Linked DNA regions of Homo sapiens: region 1 is linked to region 2. The links come from fine-mapping of genetic effects on gene expression. A gene starts in region 2. The other region holds a variant in brackets. All regions are shown on one strand. Distances are from middle to middle.

Region 1 (12,554 bases), 87 kb before region 2:
TATGACATGTGAATTACATGTCAGTGAAGGTATTAAAAAAAGAACATAGGAAATAAACATTACAACAGGAAGGGTAAAATAGAACCAGCAGCTCAAGTCATTTAAAAGTGTACACTGTGGGGAAGAGGTAATTATAGACACGGTCTACACTCATTGGTGATCCCAGAAATCACGAGAACTGCATCCTATCCTTTGTGTGGATACTCAGGCCTTGGTGATTTTCACGGATTCTCTGAACTTCATGTCACCAAGTATTATGATTTGTGTCCAGGATAATGGAATGTGATGTTTTCCTAGAGTGAGATCAGTGCCCTACTCGTCCCCTCATCTCAGAACCATCCAGTCTTCTTCGGAGCAAAGCACACAGCGGGAGAGAAGTGTGTGGAGTTACTACTCACGGATGCCAGATGAGCGAATCAGTCCTGGAGATCAGTGATGAAACCGATACCACAGCTAGATCACATTCACATTCTACTAGATTATAAGTAAAGGGTCCCTTCCTTTTAAATTCTCAGAGCACGACACACAGATAAAAGTTTCAAACTGAAAAAAAAAAAAATAGCTCCTTTGCTGGAAGATTTTCACTGAAACATACCAGAAAATCTCTGGCTTTTACTGTTCTCTGTCAATTTGTGCCCTTCTCTCTGGCTCATTGTGTTTAAACCCTTCCTTCTAATGTGACTGCCTTCCCACCTCTTCTTCGTACCCTTTGTTGAAGCAAGGTGGGGCTGTTTTGAATTTCCTAATAGTTACAGATGATTTAATGATTAGCTGCTTAGATATACTGAAGACAAGATAAGAAAAGGAAGAGAAAAGACGGGGGCTTTACTGAGGAGAGATTGGGAAGCCTGTTTCTTACCCTGTTTTTTTCAGATTTAAATAAAGCCAGACAGATTCACCTACTAATTTTAGGACCAGTGATCCAGATATGTACTGTGTTGTGTAAACCTTCTAGGAAACGTGGCAGCTGTAGAGCCAGGCATATTCCAGATTTAAAATAAGTTAATCCAAAGGATTTGATTTGAAGGGTATATTTAGTGCTAAGTGTGTTTACTCTCAGCGATGAGTTTGACACTGATCCATTAAAGAAAACTGGGGTTTCGTACAAGCCATGCCCTCTTCTCATATTTATCCATGCACGCACACTTCACGTGAGTTTTAAACTGTTTACTTAGAGCTTTCATTCTTTTAAAGACTGTGTATGTTGATTTTTGTTCCAGAGTGTGTTAGGCCTCCTTGGTAGCCAGGAGACTGAGTTTGCTCTAGAAGGTGTGGACCCTGGCAAGCAGGCACTTCTCAGGTTTGCTCACAGGTTTCATTAAAAAGAAAAAGGATTAGGAGCTGACCTGAATCGTTCCTGGCCTTTGAGCAAGGCTAGCCCCACATGAGAACTTCCAGAGCTGCCTGTTCAGATGAAAGCCTCAGAATTACTTGTTGACATTTTTTGGGAGACACCAGCCTGGGCAACGTAGTGAGACCCCCATCTCTACAAAAAACAGAAAAAAATGAGCTGGATGTGGTGGCATGGGCCTGTAGTCCCAGCTATTTGGGAGGCTGAGGTGGGAGGATTGCTTAAGCCCAGGAGTTTGAGGCTGCACTGACCTGTGATTGTGCCACTGCACTGCAGCTTGGGCAACAGAGTGAGACCCTGTCTCGAAAGAAAAAGAAAAAATTGGGAGACAAAGTCAATGAAGTCTTCAAGCATGTATTGAATGTCAATTCCAAAAAAAAATTATACTCTTCAGGGCACGTATTAGTGCTAGGGTGTGGCGCTTTAAGAACATATGAAGGTGTTGTCGCAGTCTTCGCTGAATTTTCAAATGAGGGCTAACTCACTGCAGCCTTGTTCATGACTTTGTCATTAATTTGTTCTGGGACTTTGCTGAGCTTGTAAAAATGGCAGGCACTTTTTTTTTTTTTTTTTTTGGGACGGAGTTTTACTCGCCCCCAGGCTGGAGCTCAGTGGCACGATCTCGGATCACTGCAACCTCCATCTCCCGGGTTCAAGTGATTCTCCTGCCTCAGCCTCCCGAGTAGCTGGGTTTACAGGTGCCCGCCACCACGCCCGGCTAATTTTTTTGTATTTTTAGTAGAGACGGGGTTTCACCAGGCTGGTCTCGAACTCCTGACCTCAGGTGATCCGCCCTTCTCGGCCTCCCAAAGTGCTAGGATTACAGGCGTGAGCCACGGTGCCCAGCCAAGGTACTTTCTCATTTAGTTCTTTTAAGAATCCTGGCAAGTTAGGAGGGTTTTGTTTTGTTTTGTTTCTTTTCATGGATAAGGGCTAGAACTTAAAGAGGTTAAGTAATTTGCCCAGGGTCTCACAGTTTACATTCCAGGATTCACATCCAGGCTTATCTAACCCCAGAGCCCACACTCGCTCCGTTTGACCATGGTGTTTTTTCTGTTTACAAAAATTCTCCAGCAGAGCCTCGTTTCCACGTGGAAGCTCTGTGGGGTTACCACCTCTGAGCACACGCCTGACGAGGCCAGAGAACCTCCCAGCAGCTCCTCTGACGCAGCCAGGGCCAGCGGAGGGGGTGCTGAGGCATGAAGAGAAGGGCCGAGGGCGAGGCAGCGCTTGCCTCCGTGACGCCTGGCCTTTTGTCCTTGCTCCTTCTCCAGAGACTTTGCTGTGGTTCTGCCCCGTGATTTCACCAGGTCAGCGAGGTTTTAGTTGTGTAACAGGATGTCACGTGGGATGTTTTTCTTTTTCTCTGGAATTAGTGAGTAGGTGGTTCCTACTCGCTGAGTCCTGGGAGGGGTCACCTAGGAAAGTCAGTGGTAGAGATGAGGGGTGCTTGAGAGAGGGGAATCGGGGGTCTCACACTTGCTGGTGGCCGTCATGGCAGCAACCAGAGTGAAGAGAACTGGGGCGAGGGCAGTGTCCAGTGGCCGTGGAGCAATCTGTGCTCCCTCCTTTTGGCAGGGCAAGGATGGAGAAATTTCCTGTGGGTCCAGTGGAGCCTGAGGAAGGAAGTTGAGCATGAGCCATCTTGCTTCAGCATTCCTAAAAGGGCTCAGCCGCCGGGTGTCTTCAGCTGTAGGTGACTGGGGTGGGTGTGCTGGTGAGGGAAGTTGAGCGTACTGGAATAGACTCAAGCCAAGGCGCATCTCCTTTTTCAGTGAGATGTGTACTCCCTACCTCCAAAAACCTGCATCTATACCTTGGGAGATTGAGCACTTGGACGCTATGCCAGAGAGGGAAGTGGTGACCAACTCATGTCAACCGATGAAGAGAGAATTGGAACCCTGCCGAGCTTTCCAAAGAGAAATTTACCTCTTCTCTTCTCCCTCCTCTGCACCCATCCTCCCAGTACACAGATAGGGCCTACAATAAAGAGGAGAGGGAGGGTGGGCCGGAGCAAACCCCTCAGCAGTCCACACAGCCTGTAAGGCGGCGGGGAAGAGCTAATTTTGCGTCACATACGGGACTGGAATTCTAAGTTAGGCCGGATGGAGATTTTCTATCTGAATGTAAGTAAACCTGATGCTATTAAATCTGCCCAAGAGGTCCTTAGCGGGTAGAAAGGAGGATTTTGACTAGCACAGTTGTAGAGAATAGTTGCAAGGAATAAAATCAACTCACATGTTTGTGTCTGCACCACAAGTGAAGTTTCTTCCTGTAACCAGTTATATAGGAGGGAGAGAGAAAGACCGTCATTTGACCACCTGTGTTAGGGCAAGACCAAGTCCCCCTCCTGCCAAGATCAGCTTGTACGGTCATTTCCCAACCATGTCAGCGTAGGCACTGTCATTCTTCAGGCATTAAATGTAGCTGTGGAAATGGTAGACTTGAGGACTAAGGCAGTGACCAGGCTGACCTTTAACCTGATACCAAGATGAACACAGACTGAGTTTTTCTACATTTGATTGATTCAGGGTTAGGGTGAGAATCTCATGCTGTTTCTTCACAGTCTTGGCCTGCTCTCCCCGGGCCTCATTCTGTTATCCAGTCATTTATGCAGTTGCTCAGCCGGTCAGTAAATCTTCCTTGAGTGCCTGTTCCATGCCGGTTTGAAGGATACGGATGTGGCCATCAATGAGACACTCAGGGCCCCTCGTGGAGCCTGCGTTCTCCGTCCCTCCTCTCTGTCAGCGCTGAGGTTTTCCGTGCCCATCCCTCTCTGCTCGCTCCTTATTCCTGTGCATCTTCTCTGTTGTGGACACTAAATCAGTCTCCAGTTTTTCAGTTAGACTTGCTCAAAATCCTGGAGTTGCTCTCCGCTGCCACAGGTGGAGCCTCAGTTCCTTGGCTGGGCCTGTTGTAGTGGACCCTCAGTGCTTTCTAGCCTTCCCTCTTGCTGTAGCTGCCACACAGGAACCTTCGTCTTCACCTGGAGTGGTTCGCTCATTGGTTATGTAGAATGCCCTCCCCTCTCTCTCCATCCTTACAGATTGTGTTAAAGTCCAGCTCTAGCTTTCTCTCTTAAACAAAACGTTACCCCTGATCCCCAGGCCGACAGAGTTTCCTTAGATTTCAACTCCTGTCATTGTCACTGTCTCTCCCGTTGCTCAGCTCTTGCCCAGTCCTGGTGGATGTCATCTGGGACCACTGGGTGCCATGTGCTTTCCTTTCCATTGTCAGTTCTAAGCTGAAGGCAACAGGAACAGCTTCTTTTGATTCCACTTAACGCCTGGCCATAGTAGGTGTCTATACAGTGTTGACTTTGCTTCATTTATTAACTTCTCTGCACCCAAAGACACTGATATTATCAAACAGCAAATGAACCTTGTGTTAGGAAACAGGGTATTTTTGCAGTCCTACTTTTCACCTATCTGTTGTGTGTTTCTTAAACATGAATTGGAACTGAAGTGACTACCTTTATTGCTTTATCTACTTGAGAACTTTTAGGACCTGAAATGCATAGCTTTTCTTTAGTTGTGAAATGGAGTTCTCAGTCAAAGGGACAGAGGACCGTATTTGATGTAGTAATAGCGATTTGTTTATGTAAGGGATGCCGTATCTTACTGCGCACACATACACGTAAAATGTCCAAGATAACATTGAATTTTTATTAATTGTAAAACCGTATCTCCTGCTTTGAGGGTTCAGCTTTTGCTACATTATCAGGATAGGTCCTGTAAAAAAGGTGGAGATCCTAAGAAATTACACTTCAGCTGGTAGATGAAATATTGCCACCTTCTGTTCATTCTGAGAAGTGCACATTGATGTTCAGGAGGTTATTTGTGTTGCTGCTTTGCTTTTAAGGGAGATTACCAATCAGTTCTCCCAGATCAAGGATAATCAGCTATTTCATAATGTGTACATGGAGTCTTAATTATAGGTTAAAATAATATTTTAATTTTTGTTTATGTTTAAAAAATCTATTCTACATTCTAACTTTTGTAGACTGTGTAGTCTGTCTCTCTTTTTTTTTGTATCTCTGCCTGGGATAACCCTCCTGTCCCTTGTGGGTGAAGGAGGAGAATGATCAGTAACATGGGGTCTTGCTCTGTCACCTAGGCTGGAGTACAGTGGCACGATCACAGCTCACTGCAGCGTTGACCTCCCAGGCTCAAGCAGTCCTCCCACCTCTGCCTCCCAAGTAGGTGGGACTAGTCACATGCCACCATGTCTGGCTAATTTTTGCATTTTTTTGTAGAAATGGGGATTTGCCATGTTGCGCAGGCTGATCTTGAACTCCTGAGCTCAAGAGATCTCCCCACCTCTGCCTCCCAGAATGCTGGAATTACAGGCATGAGCCACTGTGCCTGGCTGGTTTTTCTTTCTTATGCTTTTTAAAAGAGTATCTCTGTGGTATGTGGTGAATAGGCTTCACTTGAATTAGTCAAGATACAGCATAAACGTAAGGTTCATGTCACGTAAGGATACTTTCAAATCTCCTATTAATTTTATTTATGATGCTTGTTATAAAGGATAAACCAACATCTTTGAAAAATAATTATACAAAGCAGTGATATTTTATTAGTTTTGGAAGAACAATGTCTATAGGTAATTTTACAAAAGTTTTCCCTATAAAATATTTATACTTCTTAAAGTGTGAACATAAGTTGTCTTAAAATGCATTATTTTAATATTTTTTTCTTGATTAAGGCCAAACTCTTTATTCTCGTAGCATGCCTGGGAGAAAGATGACACCCTTTTGTGGATGGGAACAGTGTCCTGAGGGGCTGATGTGGCCCAGCTGATGTCACATAAGCCACGTCATGGAGCAGGGCTGCTATTGAAATGTGAGGTGTCTGCCAGCCTGGGCTCCTATGGCAATGGCTTATCCTCTGCTGTTTTTTTCACTTCTAATATACTTTATTTCTATTATTTCAATTACAAACTTCATATATGCTCTCGGTATCAATGAAAGATTACAGGGGCATCCAAAGTAGTACTGATGGCATTCTCCTGTCGCCTGCCATGCTGTCTTTCTGCTGTAATTGCTGCCAAATTGGTACCGTTTTCTATACATTTTTATTCTGCTTGATAAACACGCAAAAACTTAAATACATATCTATAAGTTGGTTTTATAAAAATGGATGATTGTATGAATATTATTCTGTAGCTTACTCTTTTCACTTGTCATGGGCCAATGCCAAGTCTATGCACAGAGGGTCTCTGACTTAATGGTTCGACCTATATGATTTTGTGGCTTTTTACAATGGTGCAAAAGCAATAGACATTCAGAAAGTGTACTTCTCTTGTGATGCTGGGCAGCAGCAGCGGCAGCAGCTCCCAGTTTGCCATGCACTTTTCACTTACGGCATTTTCAACTTCCAATGGGCTCATCATGATATAACCCCATCGTAAGCCTCAGAGCATCTGTCTGTCTGCTGTGTGATCTGTGCCCTCCTTCTTGGTCACTGCTCGCAGGTCAGGGCATGATAAACCATTGTGTATCCTGTCATTGTCCTATTGAGATAGTCATGGGTTTTCAGCTTTTTTCAATAAACATTCTTGGGCATCTATTTTTATGTGCTGGTACTTTTAATTTTGTCAGACTTTTAGGAGATCTGTGTCAAAGAACATA[T/C]GTGTCTTTAACTTTAAACTTAGCTCTTTTAGCTTTTAAAAAGTACTATTGTGCACTGTGCTTTTAAAAGCAGATATTTTTTTCTGGTGGTGAGTTCTCAGTGTAGGTTCTCTGCCTGGGTTAGCCCTCCTGTCCTTGGTGGGTGGAGGAGGAGAATGGTCAGCGAATGCTGTTTTCTAGGATGTGATGACCTGCTTAATAAAATAGCAAGAATGTTTACACATTCTAGAAACCGATGCATTTCCCAGCTAAAGTAGGACTTGTCCCCTTCTTGATTTTAGCCACGCAGGCTAGGACAGTGTTTGGATTTAATAAACTTCTTCAGATACCACTGTGACTTAACCTAGTTTGCACTTGGAGACCCCAACTTCTCATATGCAAAATTATAATAATGAAAGTGATCAAAAAGCCCAATAGATCTCTAGATTTAAATAAGGCGGCTGGTGGAAATGTCTCTGGAGACTTGGTTGCATTCCCTCTCTTCATTTTATTCAGTAATTCCTGCTCAAGGTTTAACTGGGCATCTGAGGGATCTTGTGGGCAAATTAGAATGATGCAACCATTCCTATTTGATAACGTGTTTATTGGCAATCTAATACTAGAAGATATAATAATGTATAGAGCCTTATTTTGACAGCTGTTTCTGCTGATATTCTTCTGCCAACCTACCGGTTATGTGTGGTATTAAATTGGACTACTTGGTTCCATCACAGAATTCCACATTCAGTTTGGCATCTCTGACGGGGACTGCAAGTGACATCTCCAGAAGGGTTTATCAGTAGACTGCTTTCCAGCTAAGAAAATGTGACCCACACTGACAAATTCATGCTGTTGAATATAAGCTCAGCAGGAGTCCCTGAAGCTATGTAGTTCAGTACAAGGTTGCAGTGATTCAAATAAGCGTATTATGTTTCCGTACATCATTCTGAATGCTTTGATTGGGTATCCATGAAATGTTTTGGTTGTTTCATCATTGTTTCATCAATGTAATTGATGACTGTTCTGTTTTGCTGACCACTGCAGCTTAATGCAATGGCAAATCGTGCTGCAGGGAAAGGCTATGAGAATGAAGACAATTATTCCAATATCAAGTTTCAGTTTATCGGGATAGAGAACATCCATGTCATGAGGAACAGTCTGCAGAAAATGCTGGAAGGTAAACCATTTCCTTATGCACAGCATTAAAATGCAGTTAAGTATTTTGATGCCAAAAGGGAATAAGATAGTCTTGATTTTAAAATGTTTTTACATAGGTGTGATAATTTGGGAAGAATATCATGTTACAGTGGCTTTTTAAACACTTAAGAACGTTTCTCTTATTTGTAAGCATCACTGTGATGTGGTTTTGTCGCTTGGTGGTTAGCAGTCAGGGACTCTACAATGGTACTGAACATCTAAGGTCAAAGTGCACAGGGATGTTTTTGTTTCTTCCTCATAATGTTAGTTTGATCCCCATTCAAGGCCATTTAGGAATAAGGCAATCCTACATTTAAAGCAATAACCAACCATTCTTGTATGGAGATCAGGCTCAAAAACTGATCCTTGCTGAATGGCCATTCGAAGGGAGAATATCGGAGGAGCTGACCCTCATTTCTAAACAGCAGCCACCACAATACACATGCATGTAACCTCCCGCCACCTCCACACACACTTTGACATATATGGCGAACATGACAAGACACGTACCCACAGACTTATATACTCGTGTGGACAGGAAATTAAAGAGATGGATTATGTAATAGAGAAGAGTTATTCATGTGGCCAACCAGCCATATGCTGATGAGCAGAAATTCTGCATTTCAAGCAAAACCAGCTTAGTCCGCTGCTTCTGCTCCTTGTGATCACAGTGACCCCAAGAGGAATCTGTCGCTGTAGTCTACCACTTCCGGCTCTGCGAACTGGGAAAAGACAGAGGATGCAGAAACCATGGCCTTGTGCCTTGGCTGTCCATGCACTGTCTGCGCTTCTGGGGAAAGCCCTGGAGAGCTGGAGCTGGGAGCCCGGGAAGTGGGCTGTCTTGATGGGAAATGCAGGCTCTGGAATGAAGAGGGACAAATAAGGTGCTGAATTATTTTTTCCAGGAATCCACGTTTGCTCTCAGTTACTTAAGCCGTTCTTCGTTTAATCAGAACACCCTAACGTTGGGGTTGGAGAAATCTGAGTGTCACAAACAGGCCTAATTTCCATTCTGTTTCCTGGACTTTCTGGTTCATCTCAGTCATTATGAAACTTTGAACACATCAGTTAACTTGTTTGGGGCTGCATTACCTGCTGCAGAATGACAGGATTAGGCCAATACTTTCTATGGGTCTTCCAGCTGTGACAGTTTGATGCCCCTCTGTAGCAGAAATCCCTTCCTACATCTGAAAACATCTCAGCCCCAGAGCCATTTCCATCTTCTGTACATAATTGGCAGTCAGTCTCTCAGGTCACAGTGACAATACCTGACATTGTCTCAGGTCACAGTGATCATACCCTGGGCATGATTATTTGAGCAGCTTCAACTTTTGGAGATTATCATGCAGAGTTTGGCTGTTCCTGCTACAAACTATGTTTTTTATGTGTTGAAAAATTGGACTCCTTGGTACTGTTATTGGAAAGGCAGTCTGACTTTAGTCTGAAGACTGTTCATCATTTATCAGGACCCTTAAGTTATTTAAATTTTTTATTTAGTCATTTCATAAGATGACCTGGAGAACATAAATATTCTTCTTTGCAGAAAATTGCTCCTACCAGTGCTGATAGCATACACATTTGGCTTTTGTTTTTAAATGGGTAATCTTTGGTTTCTCGTCAGGAACCATTTCTCCTGCCCTTATGCCTGTGGTCTGACACTACTGTTTTCTAAAGAACATGCAAACTGACCAAGTTCTGGAGGGCAGCTGTCTGTTTCATAAGGGAACATGGTGCTTGCACGTAACTTTTCCAGCTACGTGCAGTGCAGTAGGCTAGGATATCTTTCTGGATGCCTGTACGTGGTCTTGACCAATGTTTGACTATCTGTTTTTACCGAGTAAATTATAAACCATTGCGGAGGCTGAGCTGATGATGAAGTGTTGCAATCAGACCCACCTTCTAAGGCTTTTCCTCCTTCAAACAGCTATCCTTGGCATCAAAGAGATATGAAGGCTCATACTACTGGTCACTTGGTAGGCAGAGGAATGAATGATGCGTTTCATTCATGATTATTATTTTCTGAATTATTTTTTACTACTGTTATGGATATAATCAGAATAGATTCTGAATAACAGAAAAGTAAAATTGTTTGCGTTCTGGTTTCAAACAGCTGTCTGTGAGCAAGAGCTGCAAGGTATTTCATCAGAAACTGAAATCTAGGACCAAGTTCACATCCTGTGTAGGTCCTCTATAGAGATGATCTAATTTTAACTTCCATTTGTAAGTCTCAACCAAACTATTTTTGTGGGATCTGTATTTCGTAAGGAGAGAAAATGATGCCTTTCAGTCACATAGCAAGCAATTTTGTTATTTAATGAAGTGATTTTCACGATAGTTTCCCTTTTGATAATATAGATACTGGCTTTTCCCTCAAGTAATAAGAGGATACCCTGTATTTTCTTTTTTTATTTAAAATTTTTAAGTTCTGGGGTATGTGCAGGATGTACATAAGTGAACGTGTGCCATGATGGTTTGCTGCACCTGTCAACCCATCATCTAACTGTTAAGCCTAGCAGGCATTAGCTATTTTTCCTTATGCTCTCCCTCCACTCCCCCACCCCCGCCAACAGGCCCCAATGTGTGTTATTCCCCTACGTGTGGCCATGTGTTCTCATTGTTCAGCTCCCACTTTTAAGTGAGAACATGTGGTGCTTGGTTTTCTATTCCTGAGTTAGTTTACTGAGGATAATGGCTTCCAGCTCCATCCATTAAAACAGTCCGTAGAAGAGCCTGGAATAGTCCCTTTCAAGGCCAGCCTATTATTATCAGCAGAGGTGGAGCTTTTACCTCTTAGGCATCCTGGGTGTTGGGGAGGAAGTGGTGAAGAGGAAGGTGGAAAGGTGTATGGAGTTACTTGCATCTCTCCACTTGTTGAGGGTGTGCCCCACTGGGACACCCTTCATATCTGCCCTGAAGGTCAGCAGGCACTGATAGGAAAGAAGCAACAGGGACATCTTCCTCCTCTGCCAATCAACTTGCCATCTTTTGGAGGTCACCTAGAAAATTTCACTTTCTCCCCACGAGTAGCTTTGTGCCTGCCTACCTTCCACGTGACTGTTAGATTAATACTGTTGGTCATTGTTTCACTGACCACTTATTCATCAATGTATTCATTAAACTAAAAATTGAGCAACTGCTCTTTGCCACACTTCATAAGTATTTTCATTTAAATGATTGTATGAGATTTTCACAACAATTGTGTGCAGTATGTGGTATTATCTGTACTGTATAGATGAAAAAGCATAATTTTTTAAAAGAGTAAACAGTAAGTTGAAATAAACATGTAGATAAACATGTAAATTTGCTCTGGTAATTAGAGAAATGTAAGTTAAAACCTCAAAGTACCATTTGCCACCCAATTTTTTACAAATTAAGATATTCAATACTCAAAAGAATGTGGTAAAACTAGTGCTCTAAATATTTATCGTATTATTTAAATTGGCTTAGACAGACATAATATATTTGGTTTAGAGATAGTTTTTTTTTTTACCAGGTTTCTTCCTCTTAGGGACTAATCCAAAATACGTTTTTAAAAAATAAAGATACAGGAAGGGCATGGAGGCTCATGCCTATAATCCCAGCACTTTGGGAGGCTGAGACATTGAGGATTACTTGAGCCACAGGAGTTTGAGACCAGCCTGGGCAACACAGTGAGACCCTGTCTCTACAGAAAATTTAAAAAATAAAAAAAATCAACCAGGCGTGGTGGTGTGTGCCTGTAGTCCCAGCTGCTCAGGAAGCTGATGTGGGAGGATCACTTGGGCCTGGGAGGTTGAGGCTGCAGTAAGCCATGATCGTGCCACTGGACTCCAGCCTGGGTGACAGAGAGTTAGGCTCTGTCTCAAAAATAAAATAAGATATAGACATGCCTATGTTGATAGTAGTGTTTTATTTATAATAGTAGAATATTGGAAGCCGAATGAATGTCTAACAGTAGTAGACTGATTAATTTTACTTCACCTTCTTGATAGAAAAGTTTGCATCCATGAAAAATACTAAATGTGAAGACTATATGTACTAACATGGGAGAATATGTATAATGTAAGCAAAAAATTCAGGTCGTAAAATTGCTTGCATATTCTTATTCACTATACAGTAAATCATATGTCTGAAGAAAGACTAGGAGAGCATGTGCAGAATGGTCACTGCATTACCAAGGAAAGATAAGACTGATGTTATTCCCTTTTTCCCTCTTTATTTACAAAATACTTGCTATGGTCGGTATATTCCTTTTTTAAAAAATGATATTTATTATCTCATGGTTTCTGTAGGGCAGGAGTCTGGATGTTTCTCAAGCATAAATTGGAACTCAGGGACCCTCTTAGCATCTTTCAAGGCTGCAGTCAAAGTGGCAGCTGGGCTGCGTTCTCATCAGGAAGTTTGAACAGGGAAGAA
Region 2 (11,813 bases):
GAGAGATCTACAAACAATAAGCTGGCTAGAAGCTTATAGGCTAAGAGGCAAAGATTCAAGCACACTGATTCTATGCAGTAGAAAGAAGGAATGTAATTCGTCCTATGCCTACTATGTGCTAGATACTCTTCCAAATGTCTTACATATATTTTTTAGTTATCAAAAATCCTGCATGACAGGAATCACAATTGCTGATTTTACAGATAGGAATTGGAGGATCAGGGTTGTCTCACATAAAAATATCCAAAACATGAGACATTTCTTCCTCCCAGTCATTTGTTACTATTGCTGAGAAAACATTTTGAGCAGCTCCCCAGCAGACTTCCCCTCCAACTCCCACTAACCAAGAGTCCTGCTTCCACAGTAACTTGGGGGGAAGGGTGATGAGACCATCATCACTGGCATAAACAATCCTTATTCACCTCTAGTGGAGGCTGGGTTGAAAGATTCCAGCCTCCACAAAGTATGGGCCTTGCAGAGGGAAAAACCAACAGTGTCCATAAAGTCAGCTTCCTCAGGAAGTATAAGAAACAGAATTAGTTCTACTCCTGTCCATAAAGTCAGGAGTTTTGGTGATAAACTGAATACTGTGGTAAGTGATACTTAGAAGAGAGAACATATTACTTGAGCCCAGGAGGCATAATTTCTAGTTTCCATTTTCACAGCTGACTTAAACACTTTGGTTAAACACTTTTCTGTGAGTGTCATCTATGACAGTTATCTCATTTGCCGTGCATATTGTTGAGACTCAGATGAAAAAATTTACATAAAATTCACCTATTTTTTTTGTAGAAGACTGAGGTAGCTGAGGAGATAAGAATTTAAGGCAACTAAAAAGTTCACAATCATTAGAGAAAGGGACAAAAAGAGACTGCTGAAGTGGAATTTTCGGAATTATAAGGGGTTAAAAATTGTAAGAGTTGGAAGGGAGATGACAGAATGGGGTAGAGAAAGGTTACTCAGTAGAGCAGAAGAAAAGATACTTTCATGGCCAAAAAAAGATATTCACCTATTGAGCTTACATTTGGAGAAGAGACATAAAACGAAACATGAGGGAGATGGACAGCATGTAACAAGATATTGATATTCCTCATGTAACAAGTTTTTGTACTGTTCATAGGAAAAAACACACTGGAAATTCTTTCAACTTTTACACACCACACCTTTAGAATAACCAATCTGTCTGTTCGCACAAAAATCTTTTAAGTGTAAGTCGTACCACTAATTTAGGTAATCAGGCAACATATTGCCAGTATTGGGGCTCAGAAAACAATACCCCAAAATATTGCACTTTGGTAGGCTGATTACTTTGAATTAAAGGAGTCTGGAGGGCCTCAGAAGTAAAGCTCTCTCTGACCACCTCCTGCCCCTCTTTCTCCATTGAAGAAGTCATAGAAACCAGAATTCCTCCTCCCCTGGGCGGTATATTACAAACTACAACCCTTCTTCCCTACAAAAAATCTAGAAAGGTCACTTTCCCTTCCGCCCTGAAGACCCTCACTCCATATGAGCCCGGGCCGGTCCACTAGAGGAGTAGAAAGTTATACAGAGAAGCCAAGAAAAATCTGAACAAACAGGCCTTGGTGGGTTTCCCCTACCTCTGTCTATTACCATTACCATACTCTTTTTGTCCAATCACATTTCTACATGGCTGTCCATTCTTCATTGAACCTAATCATAAATACAGACAGTTTTCCTTCGGTCTCTGGGGCTTCATTTCTGAAGGCTCCCATGCAGTGTAAAACTTTGATTAAATAAATCTGTTATGCTTTTCGCTTGTTAACCTGTCTTTTGTTACAGGAGGGTCAGCTGTGCCCCTTATGACTGATGAGAAAAAATATCACACCTTTTCCATCTTTACATCAGATACCATACAGACAGATTATTTTTTACCTCCCAGCTTACAAATATATGTCATTATTTAAAAGGGTGGACTAACAAGAATAGGTGAGTGGCATTTTCCAGGATTGTGCCATTCTTTGAAAACTGGAAGCATATGACCTACTTAAGTGTCTCCGGAATTATTCGAGTATAATTTGTAAATGCGAAACATCTCAATAAAACTTCAAGTGTTTTTATAAAAGAACTTAAAACAATAAAATACTTAGTTATTTGTTCATAACACTACAAAATAAATTACATTATCTAATGTAATCATGTCCAATCATACGTTCATAATTTCTGGTTCAAAAAATAATACATAAAATGAATCCTTTCTGTATCCAACTCCGCGTATTTACTGATCCTCTTAAGCCAATTCCAGAACTCTTTACATTAACAATTGCTGCTATAGAATCTCACTTTATTTGGGAGGCCAAAATTATAAATTTCACATCAATTACTTCCCTTACTTACCAGCCTTAGCAGCAAGAGACTTTGTAGTATTTAAAAAATTAAACTCCAACCTCGAAGAAAAAAATTAGTCAGCATTGAAAATATTTAACATAATACTACATACTAAGGTTTAAAAGCAATTAATTCCAAAAGTGTGGTTCTAAAAAAGTGTTTCTGCAATAGCAGGACTGGTTTGGTATATAGTCTACCAAGGTAACAACTTCTAAGGGAACAAACATGTTAAAAACGAGTCCCCTTATTTTATAAGCATACCTTGTGAGAGTAGCTCTTAAAGGTCAGTACAGAACATGATTTGGAGTAAGAGTGACTTGTAAGAACTTTGCGAACTTAATTTTCCAGAATGAAAGCCACCAATAACAGCCTGCCATTCTTTTCTGTTAAACAGCATAAAATTTCACCTTTTGAAAGTTCTGAACAAACAGAACAATTGAGACAACGAACCAAGAAACACCTAAAGTTCAGTCAGCATCAGGCCTTATTTTAGCCAAACTGATTTTGCAGTAAATTTTTCTATTAACTAGACTATTTAATTAAAAATTATTCCATTTTAAATAAGAATTATTCGATATTATCTGAGGATACATATTTTTTAACTGTATGAAAATAATATTTTTAAAAGGGCTAGGAGCCCGGCGAGGTGGCTTATTCCTGTAATCCCAGCACTTTGGGAGGCCGAAGCGGGTGGATAATCTAAGGTCAGGAGTTCGAGACCAGCCTGACCAATGTGGTGAAACCCCGTCTCTACTAAAAATACAAAATATTAGCCGCGCATGGTGGCGCGCACCTGTAATCCCAGCTACTCGGAGGGGTGTGGGGAGCTGAGGGAGGATGATTGCTTGAATCCGGGAGACGGAGGTTGCAGTGAACCGAGATCGCGCCACTGCGCTCCAGCCTGGGCAACAGGAGAGCCGTACCCCCGGCAAAAAAAAAAAAAAAAAAAGGGGTTAGGGACTTAACAATGTTGTCATCTTTATTTAAAATAGTGTGAAACTGTTAAGTAAATATACTTGCAAAATGCATAAAATATAAAGAAGCAGTTCTAATTTTTGAAAACCATTAGAGACCATAGACATTTGCAATGTAAAAGGCTGCAGCAAACCAATTTACAGTAAAAGTTGAAATAATATGAATTGTAAAAATATTTCTAAACTGACCATGATAAAATGAAAAACTCACAGGAAGACAACAGAACAATCAAGATGAACATAAAGTAATTCTTGAGCGTGGGGACAAGACTATGAAAGAAGTGAGAAATGTACATGCACTGGTCGCTGTGAGATGGGGAGAGACTGCTCCAACAGGGTAAATCTTAGAGACTCAAGAAGACTGACTACGTGATAAGTGACTCTCAGACGAGAAGCATTCACTGATGAAAACTCTGGCTTCCCTTTCCTTTGATGTTGCAACAGTTCTATTTTCCATTCTTTGTGAAACCTGGAGATTACTCTTCACAATTGTATTTTAACAATTCTGCTGACGCGGCAATCAGGTGGGCAAAGGGAAAGATCAGTGGCGAAGCCTGGGCAGCAAGGGATACTGGAAATAGACTATGAGAGAGATTGAGAGATTACAGTCAGCAGCTATGTGTCAGGAGGGATGAGGAAATCCGAGTTAGAAGCGCTGAGCAGTGGTGCGGCAGGAGGCAGGGAGGGTCCGGAGGAAAACAGTAAAAGGGGGCAGGAGTGGCAGAGCAAGCGTGTGACCCACAACCAAGGGAGGTAAACCACATGAGGAGCTGGTGGGGAGCAGACTGAGGCGCTGTGAGGGTGGTTAGGACAAGCCCGCCCTCCCACCCTACTTTTTCCTCCGGTGGAGAGGCAGCGACCAGTCACCTGGAGTGTGAGTTCCGGAGGGACTCGATCAGGCGCTGCTTCTGCTGCTGGAGGCTGGTGAGGCCACCGGGGGACCCAGCCGCGGAGGAGGAGGCGCTCTTGGTCAGGGGAAAAAGCCAGCTCATCCTCCTCGGGTCCACGGGCCGGAGGCCCTGGAAGGCTCTGGCCTGCTTCTCCCAGTGGCTCGGCCCGGCGGTTCTCCAGCGACAGAGGAGCGGGGTGGGACGTCCGTGGCCCAAGCGCTGGGGACCGCGTCTTCTCTAAGCCTGTCCTGCCTGCGCTCCCCGAGTTCTGGGGGACATGCTACGAACGGCGGGCGGCTGGAGAGGGAAACTTGCGGCCCGGAACAGGAGGTCCCACCTTCACGGCCCAGACGCCCAAACCGGCCAGCCAGGGAGCCTGGCCGCCCAGCGCTCCACCACCCGCGCCGCCGTCACTTGCGTGCCCCGCCCCCGGGGGCGCTCTCCGCCCCCTCTGCGTGTCGCGTCATCATCTAGCGCCCCCGTCAGGACGTGCGAAAAGCGACGGCGCAGCACGGTGCGGCGCAGCTCCTGCTCGCCTTTCCCTTCGCTGGGCGAGAGGTGTCTATGGGGCACCCGCTGCCGCCGCCGCTACCGCCACCGCCACCGCCACCGCCGCCGAGTGCTGTCTCTATGGCGAGGAGGAGGAGGAGGAGCGCGAGCTCAGCGACACAAGTAGATCTTGCATCCGCTGCAGCCTTACGGGGGGAGGGGCGGGTTAGGGAAGTAGAAAGGGGGCGGGGACGATGAACCTGAGAGGGTGCGCGATGGCGCCAGCTGGAGTGCGGCTGGCGGAGGAAGGAGCCTGGCGGCGGGTTGGGGGCTGGGTAACTGGGGCTGGGGGTTTGTCAAGGGGTTGGCGCGTAGTGATGACGCAAAGGCTTTGTACCTGGGGCTTCGCAGTGGGACGGAAATTGGGAGTGGAGGGCGGTGGCCTAGATCCTCACCTCTTCGTATTGTTTCACGCGGCAGTGCTTGGGAGTCAGTGTAGCTCCAGTCAGTGTTATCAGCACCTTCGCACTGGCGCTTTGCCAGGGAAGAGAGTTATCTATGGCTTGAATACCTCGGTGCCGTCCTCTCGTTTCTCTGGGAAACTGCAGTACGGAGATGCTTTCTCCAGTAATGAGAAGGCCTTTGGTGTCTCTTCGGGGCTTCTGGGACTGCAGTAGAGAGAGAGGTGGAGGAAAACAATGTTAGACTACAGGGTCTTTCCAAGTCTTTGTGTTTTTGTGCTTATGTGTGTGTGTGTGCCTATCGGGGTGGGAGAGTTATAAAGGAGGGGTGTCCTGGATCTCCTTTAGTTTCTCTACTTGGAGAATTGGAAGTTACATTTGTGACTCTTCAGAGTTTAGAAGACAGTCATAAGACCCTCTTTTTACTCTTGTTTTTTTTTTTTCCAATTTGTATGAAAAATGCAGAAGGATTTGAAATTTCCCTGCCCAAGAATCAACAGGAACTCTGTTTATAGACCAGAAATGTGACATCTATCTTTGGTAACCATGCAATATGCTCTAAGTTTTAGACGTTCTATTGTGTTCTTTTTCCGTTCTGCAACTGCGAACATTCAGATAATTTTCATGGCCGTTACTTTTTTCTCAGAGCATTTACAAACATTTTTGACCCCTCTAGTCTAGTTAGAATAAACGCCGGTAAAGTAGATCTTGTTATCAAGTCGGATTTTGGTTGTTTTATTAATGAGGAATAAAAATAAACACCATCTTTGCCATGGTAACATCTGATCTTGTCACATGTAAATAAGTAATTTTTCATTTTTTGTCTGGAAATGGATGGCTTTATAAAGTTTTATGCAGAGTAGTTGAACTCAGATAAATAATTAGTGGAAAGTTATAAAATATGATTAGTATGTATGTGTAAAAAAGCTATTTTAAAATAACTGAAATTAGGACCAGGAAATCTGTACTGTAGTCCTTTTTTTCCTATAGACTAGCTGTGTGACCTTAAGTTACTTTCTAAACTTTGATTTTTTTTTTTTATGAGTCAAGAACTTTGAATAAATAACTTCTTAGGTTCCTGCTGGATCAATTATTCTGTGATTCAGATTTGATATATCTGGTCTTCATATTGTTTTTTTATTTTGACAGGTACATAAATAAAGGATAAAATATTTTATGAAACAAATCTTCAATCAAGTATAACATTTTGATGCTTGGCATCTAGACTCCCTTGTGCCCTCACTATGCCAGCGGCAACTGTAGATCATAGCCAAAGAATTTGTGAAGTTTGGGCTTGCAACTTGGATGAAGAGATGAAGAAAATTCGTCAAGTTATCCGAAAATATAATTACGTTGCTATGGTATGCCCACAAGCAGATCTTTAAAACGCTTCATATAAAGGAGGAAAAGGAAATTTTAAAGTCTTGAATTCAACCCTTTTGGTTGATATTTTTAGGGATTAATTTCACCATGAAAAGTAAAATTTGTCACTGCCCTCCAGCCAAAATCCATCAGGAATACACCTGTGATTTGACAGGTTGGGTTTATCCCTCATTGCAGTGAGGGAAAACGCACTGGAATTCATGGGAACCATGGGCCGTTTGAATAAGAGTTAGGAAGGATTTGGGCTCGTGTCAGGTGGTCTTAGGGGAAGGTAAGGGAAGCAGAGCTTTACTGTGGATTGGATGTGTTCGGGAAGCTGGGGTAATTCTGTGATTGGGTATCTTACTAAGTCTTAAATGAGAGACTAGAATGAGGTTAAAGCTGCAGAGAAGGAACAGTCATTCATTTAGCCAGGATGGAGATACTTGGTCATTTTGTGGTTTGACATTTTTATTTTTTTGTCCTTGTTCAGACATGATTACAGAGTGGCCTTATTTGAGGTTGAACTTTTGTGAAATTGTGTTCAACAGGAGAACATTAGGGCGTGGCTATGAGTGCCAGGTCTGCTCCTAGCAACACCAAAGCCTAGCTGGTAGTACCACATGAGCTCCCAGAAGCTAGGGTGCTCTTTCTCAAACAAAAAAATCAGATGTGCCAGTGAAACGTTGTTGGTCTGCAATTTGTTTTCATAATTAACACTGGAGTTCTGTGAATATACTGTGTTACTAAGCAACTCTGCTTTTGCACGTGCTGTTTGGTCTGCCTAGATTGTCTATCCAGTTAATGATTTTTCTTCTTTACCATTATACTGTCTATATCTGTTAGCTACCCTACTGTTTTCTACATCCACTGGATTATTATTAGCTCCATAAACCAAGTGTTTTAATCCTTTCTCTCCCAACACCTAGCATAACACATATAGTATTCAATAAAGTGGCTGTTGAATTGCACTGAATTTAGAGAAATATTGATTTCTTTACTATTTCATAGTGACTTGATAGGTAGTTTTTATTCTTAGCTAGCCCTAGTTTGAATTCTAATACTAAACCGATGTATCTTTGTCTCAGTATTTTTAATAAAAATAAACAAATGCATTACTTTGGGGAGGAGCAAGTTGATTGGTTAAAATATGACTGTTTCTTTGTAGATGACATACTATTTGATAAAGGTGTACTTACCCATGATTAGAACTAAAATTGTTTTCTTAACCAATGGAAATTCATAGTGATCATTGATTTCTCAGATGATAAAGAGTGGCAACATAGAGAAGTGATAACATCCTACAAGAGTGAGTAGGTGGCATGCAATTCTTGACAGCATGCTTTCTGTGGACTATAGAGAGAATATTGTTTAAGCCAGAGAAATTAGGAAGCTAATGATGTTTTTCTTAGGGTTTTGGTGTTGAGAAAAACCTTGTGTCAGAGAAGCAATTGGAAAGTACAGGGCGTTTTCCCCTCTTTTGAACCAGTTCTTCAAGAAACTTGGTTTTAGCATTGGAATACTGTGAGCATCATTTCATGTATCCTTTGGGAGACAGGAATTTATGATTTTCCCCCCTTTCTTGGTTATAGAGTAAGTATTTGGTTAAATTTATCACATGTATCTCGTATAGTAACTTTTTGGATATATTTAAGGAAAGGTTATTAAGTTTATAGAGTTTTATGGTTCTAAAAAGTGATGTTCTTTCTAGTTAAAATATACTTTGTAATTGAATATAAATGTGTAGAATATCATCTGTAGGATTCTTTGATTTGCATCAAAAATTAAAAATGTGTGGATTGTAGTTTTGACTGTTTAGTACATAATGAATCTTAAAACTATTTTACAGGACACCGAGTTTCCAGGTGTGGTTGCAAGACCCATTGGAGAATTCAGGAGCAATGCTGACTATCAATACCAACTATTGCGGTGTAATGTAGACTTGTTAAAGATAATTCAGCTAGGACTGACATTTATGAATGAGCAAGGAGAATACCCTCCAGGAACTTCAACTTGGCAGTTTAATTTTAAATTTAATTTGACGTAAGTGGGAAATAACTGTATAACCCAGACTTTTTTTTTTTTTTCTTTAATCTTAGGAATTGATTTTCCTCAAGTATGGTGACATGCTAGGTGAATTTGGTGTAGTTATCCTGGAAATATATAAAACGTAACATTTCAAAAGCGTGGTTTTCTTTTTTACTATGGGACCAAAAAAAATACTTTGATGTTAAAGATGTTATATTTAAAATATGACTGCAGCTTTTTTTGTATTTGGAAGACTGGGTATTGAAAGTACTTCTGATAGAAAAAATAATCCTACATTAGTTTTACTTTCAAAAATTTTGTGTGCAATTTGAAATATAGCCTTTTATAATATTTATCCTTCTTGTGAAGATTTTTGTTGCATTCATATTCCAGTTTATGAGTAGATTACATGTCAAATGCAGTAAGACGTTTTCTGGAACCTTGGGTACGTTTTCCTTTCAAGTCAGTATTATCATTAGGTTGCCACTTCAGCCCACAAAAGCTCTCTTAATTTACATATAGGAGAAGTAGTAGTATCCTTGAACCTGGTGTTTATCATATGTCAGAATCTTCATTCTAACTCAAGCCCTGGGTCTTCACCCAGTTTCCTTAGTTATAATATTTCTGTATTATTAATAGAAGTAGTCTTGATAGCTAAGGGAAGTTTTAGATGTTTTTAGAGAGGGGCAGATTATTTGCAAACTAAGTTGGGTAAATAAAATAATACATTCTTATTACAGCAGGACCTCAAATGACATTTTCTTCAACATTGTTTCATGGTAACCTTCATAAAAAATAAAATTGATTCCTGACCCGGGCCACTACCTGAGTGGAGTGTGCACGTTCTCGTGTATATGTGGATTTTCTCCCGGGTCCTCTGATTTCCTCCCACATCCCAAGGCTGTGCACGTTAGGTGAAATGGTGTGGCTAAGTTGTCCCAGTGTGAGTGAGTAGGTGTATCTGTGTGAGTGCACTGTGCCACGGAACGACATGCTGACCAGGGTTGGTTCCCACATTGTGCCCTGAGCTGCCAGAATAGGCTCTGGCTTTCTTCACCCCTCAACTGAATAATGGAGCAAATAATTATCTTGTTTTTATTAATTGTTCTTAAATTTACATATAGCTCACATTTATTTCATTGTTTAATATTAGAAGTATTTTGGTCTTTATCTAGAAGTTTGATGATTTTTTTGTGACCAGAAATATGCCGTAGGAACTTAACTCTTGTTTTTATCAATTAGCCTGTGGTAAAAATTGGTTTCGTTATCCATCTTTTGGCTTAAAGTTGCAATTTCCAAGAACTTATTGATAACGTTGAGTGAGTACTTAACTGTATGTTGCAATATTGCATTGTTCTTCTGTTTGACATCCTACATTTGTGTCATACATCCTAATATCTGGTAGGTAAAATAGTGAAAGAAACTGTAGGCAATTAATGGTAGTGCCAATGTATGAATTCTTTCTTCCTGTTCTTTGTCAGATAAACAAAGATATTTAGTATACACAATTTTACGAAAGTAGGGCTTAGGAAAAGCAGAGTAATGATGCCTGTGGTATAGTAGTGTGGCTTGTAATTACACTGTGTTTAGCCTGACTCTCCATTTCACTCTTTTGGGTTTAATAATATACTCTCCATTTGGAGACCAAGGCAGGAGGATTGCTTGAGGCCAGGAGTTCTAGACCAGCCTGGTCAACATAGACTCTGTCTCTACAAAAAAAAAAAAAAAAAATGAAACTAAGCCAGGCATGGTGGCTGTGTACCTGTAGTCCTAGCACTACAGGTACAGGTACAGGTAGCTAGCACTACAGGTACAGGGAGGCTGAACCAAGTGGATTGCTTTAACTGAGGTGTTCAAGGCTATAGTGATCTAGATTGCACCACTGCACTCCAGCCTGGGCAACAGAGTGATACTTTGTCTCTAAAAATACCTGTATCTATACACACACGCACAGTCTACAGAACCTTGTAAAGTAAACTTGTCCAACCCTTGGCCCAGGATGGCTTTGAATGCAGCCCAACAGAAATTCGTAAACTTTCTTAAAACATTATGAGATTTTTTTGTTGTTGTTTAAGTTAGTTTATTTAATGTGTGGCCCAAGACAGTTCTTTGAGTATGGCCCAAGGAAGCCAAAAGATTGAACACCTCATTTATAAAGGGTGCAAAGTACTCCACTCAAACTGAAAACCTTTTATAAGAACTACATCTGTGAAACACTGAAAATTGCCTCCTATCCTTTTTCTCAAATGATAAACCTTTATTAAAATTAGTGCTTTACCATTTCATTTGTTCCATGTTAACTTTTTGTTCAAGTGAATTAGAACATTGTTTTTAAATTAGATACTATTGTGATCTCAGTACGTGAGAAGGAGGTAACCCATCAGCTTCTCAGTTTGGATAAAATTGACAGTTTCCTTTTCTAGAAACACCTTTGTTCGAGTAACAACTGCTTTCTTAGTACAGCCTGTAAGTGACATTTTTTCTTTCTTACTCAAAAATGACTGCTAAAGTTTACTACCAAGTTTTGCTACCATTTACACTAGGGGTGTCTAATCTTTTGGTTTCCCTGGGCCACACTAGAGGAAGAATTGTCTTGGGCCACACATAAAATACACTAATGCTAACAATAGCTGTTGAGCTAAAAAAAAAAAAAATCTCAAAATGTTTTAAGAAAGTTGACAAATTTGTATTGGGCTACATTCACAGCCATGCCGGGCCACATGTGGCCCACTGGCTGCAGGTTGGACAAGCTTGATTTACACTGATGTTAGGAGATGTTTAAGGAGAAGGATACAGTGAAAAACATTAGGTAGAAGAAGTCATTTGGAAGATAAACGAGTAATGCCTAATATAGAGAGAGCACCGTGAAGAGAATCTTGGAAATTTGGAAGAAAGATCAAAATTGACTTTTTAATGGGGTGGCTAGAATGAGTGTCAGTTACAGTGCTAGACACTAGGGATTTAGTACTGAGGAAAGTTGGTCGTGGTCTTTATAACTCAGTGTTTTGTAACTCTTCTGTTTTCTCTCTATTGCCTAAGTCTAAGAATTACAATTGTAACGTATGGGAATTCTCTCCAAACTGAATTTGGAGTTGATACATCCATGAAAATTGAAGTGGAGTACTGATGAGCTGTGAAGAAGAGAAGCATTCTGTGGAAATAATGTCACTGATAAAGAGGATTAAAACAAATTTTTAACAAATTCTCACTTTTAGGCTGGGCGTGGTGGCTCACGCCTGTAATCCCAGCACTTTGGGAGGCCG

Evidence for each region.
Region 1: its variant is fine-mapped to the expression of VPS37A in cerebellum (GTEx, PIP 0.94).

The regions. Positions count from the first base shown.
Region 1 is chr8:17,326,735-17,339,288 of GRCh38, reverse strand. It overlaps MTMR7 (myotubularin related protein 7), which reads left to right. Exons shown (of 14, transcript NM_004686.5): 7 at 8,007-8,139. It also overlaps a transcript of VPS37A not described here. Among named protein-coding and RNA genes, the nearest start is that of MTMR7, 80 kb to the left of the region's middle. RefSeq lists an enhancer at 2,247-3,446 and a silencer at 4,515-4,809. The variant T/C (reference allele first, on the strand shown) is at 6,984.
Region 2 is chr8:17,239,744-17,251,556 of GRCh38, reverse strand. It overlaps VPS37A (VPS37A subunit of ESCRT-I), which reads right to left and starts at 4,599. Exons shown (of 12, transcript NM_152415.3): 1 at 4,188-4,599. The coding sequence starts at 4,312. It overlaps CNOT7 (CCR4-NOT transcription complex subunit 7), which reads left to right and starts at 4,700. Exons shown (of 7, transcript NM_013354.7): 1 at 4,700-4,882; 2 at 6,310-6,521; 3 at 8,372-8,565. The coding sequence starts at 6,405. RefSeq lists an enhancer at 4,103-4,951.